2 separate regions of the Homo sapiens genome follow, and region 2 is linked to region 1. Evidence: fine-mapped expression QTL. Tissue or cell type: whole blood. Region 1 holds a variant in brackets; the other region holds the start of a gene. All regions are shown on one strand. Distances are between the middles of the regions.

Evidence for each region. PIP is the estimated chance that this variant, and not a neighbour inherited with it, causes the effect.
Region 2: CEP43 starts here. The variant in region 1 is fine-mapped to the expression of CEP43 in whole blood (TOPMed, PIP above 0.99).

The regions. Positions count from the first base shown.
Region 1 is chr6:167,118,465-167,121,221 of GRCh38, forward strand. It overlaps a transcript of CCR6 not described here. Among named protein-coding and RNA genes, the nearest start is that of CCR6, 3.3 kb to the right of the region's middle. RefSeq lists an enhancer at 541-1,041. The variant G/A (reference allele first, on the strand shown) is at 1,684.
Region 2 is chr6:166,998,059-167,000,558 of GRCh38, forward strand. CEP43 (centrosomal protein 43) reads left to right here and starts at 1,339. Exons shown (of 13, transcript NM_007045.4): 1 at 1,339-1,456; 2 at 2,002-2,055. The coding sequence starts at 1,355. RefSeq lists silencers at 411-640, 931-1,450, 1,541-1,700, 1,711-1,800.

The DNA of each region.
Region 1 (2,757 bases):
TCCCTCTTAGACCGGTTTCTATAACTGTTCTTCTACGTAGAAATAAATTAGTAAATAAAAAGTAAGCTTTCAGTTTGATTTCCCTATTTCTGTCCCGATGTAAAATTTGGCATCATCTTGATTCCCCTTTTGCTTGTTCCTTACTGATATTTTCCAAAACATCTCCCCACATCATTTTCTCTTCACATGTATCCCAGAAAGGTATGAACTTTTGGATCAGATGACATGGTTTTGAGATTGGCTCTTCAACTTATTGGTGTATGAACTTGAGGAAGTTGCGTTTTTCCTCTGAGTTTCAGTTTTCTCATCTGTCACTTGAGGAGGACTATGACAACCCCAGGGCCCCTGGGCCTTTAGTGAGGATTAATGAAAATGAATGGGTGAAATGGCGAGGGTCAGCCCCACATGCTGGACGCCCTTGGTCCCGGCTCCCTTCTCTACTCTGTGATGTCAGGCAGGGCTGCCGCCAGGAGGAGGGTGCACCTGCCCTGTGACCTGCTCTTCTCCCTACCGTAAACTCGCTCCCTGTCCCTCCACGGCCCACAGACGTCTGTGTCTTTGTATTGCTGCCAGCCTTCCGGTCCTGCAGCCACCCTCCCCAGCTCCCCACTGAGGGCTGGTGCCCCCACCTGTCCTTACTGCTCTCCACCTCGGTGCCTTTCTGCCTCCCCACCCAGGCTCATGCTGTTTGTCCCCAAATTGCCTTCCTCCCCCTGCCTACCTGGTCAGATCTGAGTCGCCTTCCTGGCTGAGTCCCAGCCTTTCACGAAGAGCCTGAAGTCCAGGATGCTGGAGGTGGAGGAGCTCCTCTGTGCTCCCTCCTGTGAACTGGACGCTCGCAGTGGCATTTCTTCACTGATCCGTCACACGTAGGCTCTCTGCATATCACATGTGGCTTGTATTGTCATGTATTTAGGCCTCAACTTTCCAACTATATGAGTTCCCAAAAGGTGGGAAGTAAATGGCATACTTTTAACTATTTCTGTAGCTTGTGTGCTGTACATAGTAACTATCTGAAAAAATGATTCGTATCTGAAAAATAATTTATAACAGGTGTTCTCCTGGCTATTTGGGAGAGTAATTTTCAGGCCAGCTACTTTATGGGGTAGAATAACACAGAGTGACTCCCCATGCCCAAATGTATTAGCATATACAGTGAGCATTGAAGGATACACCATTTGACATCTTCGTAAACTCCAAAATTCAAGGTGTCAGCACAGCTTGTACTTCCTCCTATAAAATGTGTTTTTGTCCCTACTAGAGAATTTGCTGATGTAATTTGTTAAGTAGCCTTTTTTAACTTTTTTATGAAGAAAAAGATATAGATCCAAACCACATAACACAGATCCAAGCACTGCTGGGCTCGGTAGTCTATGTTTTTGCAATGGGTGTGAGCCTGTGGCTGCCTGCCAGCTGTCATTGTTGTAGGTTTCTTCTTCCTGTCCCTCCACTCTCAGCACCTGTGCTAACTCTAGGCTTTCCTGGGGAGGGTTTTGTAAAAACCAACAAATGACGCTTTTATTTTAATTTGTTTTGTTTTTTAAAAACATGTTCATTACTTCAGAAGTTTTGTGCGCACAATGAGAGTAGAAAACTGCCCCAGTTATCTACCACCTTGAGTCATGGTGGCTTTAACAGTGATTTATTTACAATCTCTTGTGGCTCTGGGGGTCAACTGGGCTC[G/A]GCTGAGTGCTTCTCAGTTGGGGCCTCCACTGCAGGTACCATCAGAGAGTGGGTGGGAGCCATGTCATCCGAAGGCTCGATTGGGCTGGGGGACTCCCACATGTGGCCGGCAGGTGGTGCACTGCTGCTGCCTGGTATCTCAGCAAGAATTCCCAACCAGCTCACCATATTGACTTCCTCAAAGTTTATACAGAGTGTTACTTTAGGGGTTAACAAAGCATTTACTATCTTTTCAACTTTGCTGATAATTTCAAAAGATGACTGACACCCAGATGACCAATGTCCACAAAGTGGTGTGCCATGGCCTCCAGTGTGTGTGCTATGGCCTCCAGTGTGTGCAGAGCCTGTTTGTGAATTAAAGGCAATCACAAGGAGAAACGGTCATGGTGACCCATTCTGAGCTGTACACAGTGTCCTCTGTAGGATTGTAGCCAGAGGCAGATGGCTTTCCTAGAAATGCCTCAATGTTGAGTTTTAAAGCAACTCCTTATGACTGTTATCTGAATTTACCAAACTGTCCCTGGCTTTTCTTAGGAATGAACTTCTGATGTTGCTGTGGAATTTTCTGCCTGGAAACTTATTGTTATGAAACATGTGACTGTAAGCCACATTCCTCGCCTTTTATGCACCTCACAGTGTCTATGCAAATGAACAGTGTGATTTTAAATTTGAGGAAGTTTCAATAAGAGTGAGATCTAAGAGGATCTTTAATATAGGGGCATTTTTAGAGAGCTAAAAACCAAATAGGTCTCAGCTTTCTCAGGGTGACATATAATTTAGATTTGACTTGGAACTACAGAAGGAATATGGGGCAAAGGACATGAGAAACATTGCAGAGGTCAGTGCCATATGGAGCTTCCACCTCAGCTCTCGAAGTAAAGGCAACCAGCCCAGGCTGGGAGCCAGTCAGCAGCAGGGTCTCAATCTCCATCCACTACCTTCCCCTCTGGGGCAGGGAGGGTGTTGCAGGGAGGAGGCCACTCTTGGAGACCTCCAGATCCCTGCCTCTGTGCAGTCTAACAGAAGGGGCCCCCACAGTGGCCATGAATCTCTTTGTTCTGCAAGGAAGGGGGT
Region 2 (2,500 bases), 120 kb before region 1:
CCGAAGGAGCCTTTCCTGTGGCGCCTGAGCCGAGGGCTTCAGGGAGAGGGCCGCGCATCGCAGCGCAGCCGCCCGTCTTCCCGTGGCTTCCCTACGGCCGCGGCTCCCGCTGCTCCTTTCCGCCGGCCACGCGGGTCGCACGACCTTCCCCTCCCGCCCACCCTGAGGCGCTGAAGCCCTCGACGCCGGCCTCGGGAAAGGCGCGGCCACCGCCCGTTTCGGATTCCCGTTTCCTTCCTCCGGGCGCGTCCTTCACCGTGGCCAAATCAGCCTCTCAACTGCTGGAGCCCGGCCTCGGACACTTCTCGGCTTACGCCGCCATACAGTGGCGCACCCCGAAACCCCGGAACCGACAGCTCGGCTGGCCTTGCGCACCCACACTCTCCAAGGCAGGGCTCGGTCCGGGGGCTGGTTTTGCCAAGGCGAGGGGCGAGGGGCAGCCCAGGCGGCCGGATGGATACCAAGAGGGCGCGTCAGCTCCGGCGGGACGGGGCTTCCAGGGCCCGGGAGGGGTCCAGGACTCCCCGCCGGCGCCTGGCTGTCGGCGGAGGGCCGCGGGGCAGGAGGGAGTGGAGACTGCGGCCCCAGTTCGGGCAGCGCGGAGCCCACCCAACGCCCTCCTCGGCCCTCGGCTCTTCCTGGGGCCATCCCGCCCCTGCACCTCGGCCTGGCACCTTTCCGGTTAGCCTCGGAGGCCGTGGCCGAGCAGGGTGCGTTCGCCTGGCTGGGGGGCCTCAGAACGTTATTTCCGGGTGACAACCTGCAGGGCCTTCCGCCCCTCGCGACCTCTCGGGAGTCCCTTCCCCGGCGCCCCCCCGGGGCTGCAGGGGCTGCAGGTTCGGTCTCGGGGCCTCCTTACCGCAGTCCGCCCGGCTTTAGGCTAGTGGGCTTTAACTACGTCGATAATATGACTCCGGCGATCTTGTGCGGCGATGGGATGCGGCCGTGGGCGGTGGAGTCCAGGCGGAGTCCGCTCTCCACACGCGAGGGCGCCTCCTCCTCACCGCTCGCCGGCTTCAAAGCTCGCGCCTCAGGCGACGGCAGCCAACGGGTTGCCGGCTGGAGGCCCCGCCGACGCCCCGCCCCTTGCGTGCCCACCCGCGCCCCGCAGCCCCGCCCCCAGCGCCGACCCTAAGTTTCGGCGCTCAGTGGTCCGGCGCTCCCCAAGGCTCGGTGTCCAGCGTCAACCCCGAGGTCTCTATGCCCCGCCTCCCGACGCCAGGGGGCAGGGCCAGCGCGCTGCGCGTCGGGGCGGGGCTTTGGCTGCGTCGGCCGCGTAGCCCGCGCGCGGAGCGTACCCTGCTGCGGCCGTTGGCCGTTAGCGCGGCTTCGGCGGTTGTCTTGGAGAAGCAAGATGGCGGCGACGGCGGCCGCAGTGGTGGCCGAGGAGGACACGGAGCTGCGGGACCTGCTGGTGCAGACGCTGGAGAACAGCGGGGTCCTGAACCGCATCAAGGTGAGGCCGGAGGCTGGGGCCGGGCCTGGCGGATCCGCAGGGCTTGCGTGGACAGCGGGCGTCACAACGGTCGCGGCGAGGAGGCCGCCTCCCTGGCGAGGGACCGGGGCCGGCGGGCACTGGGGGCGCGCCCCGGCATGGCCTCCGTCCTGCCCGCCCCACAGAGGGGGTCGGCTCGTTCGTTCGTGTGGTCCCGGAGGGCACCGCGGACTGGGGGTGCCTGGCCCATCCCCTGCCTCATTCCGTGGGGGCGGGACCGCGGGGCTTGGGGGCCACACGGGCGGCCCGCAGCTGGGCCCTGGAGTGCGGCCCCAGCGTCTCTTCCTCAGGCTCGGGCATGATCCGCGGCGGGAAAGCAGCGCGTCCAGCCGAAGCCTGGGGGTCGGAGAGCTTGTGTGACTGAGAACGTTTCGGAAGGCGTTTCTGACCTTTGCACCTGCCCTCCCAGCTCGTTGGCTTGCTCGTGTTTGTTGCTGGATAAATGTGAGCTTGTTGTGAAAATTGTCTTGAAATTATAATTTCCTGTTTCTTAACTTTTTTTTAAGGCTGAACTCCGAGCAGCTGTGTTTTTAGCACTAGAGGAGCAAGAAAAAGTAGAGGTATGAAGTTTCCAGATTTTAACATGGCTGTATTCGTTAATACTTAATTTCTTATTCATTAAAAACCGTCTTAAAAATAGTTTATAGTAACATATAGCTAGGGATAATTTTGAACTGTTAAGGATTACATTACTATTGAGAGAGAGCCAAAATTATTCTTTTTTCGTGTAGCTTTTGAATTTGGGGGTAATCTTAAGGTACCACAGTAACTCTGATACTAATGCTTAATCTGAAACAAATGGTCATAGGAGTTTCTTGAAGAAATGGTGCCATTGTCAATGTGTTAAGTGCAGGTTCACTCAGATCCTTTAGTAAGCTAATATGTTATTAATCCCTATGAAACGGGGTATATAGTATGCAACTTTTCCCAAAATTATCTGACCACTCAATTATTTTGACAATGAAAAAGACAGCGATTATTTTAAAAGTGCAGCCACTACTCTAT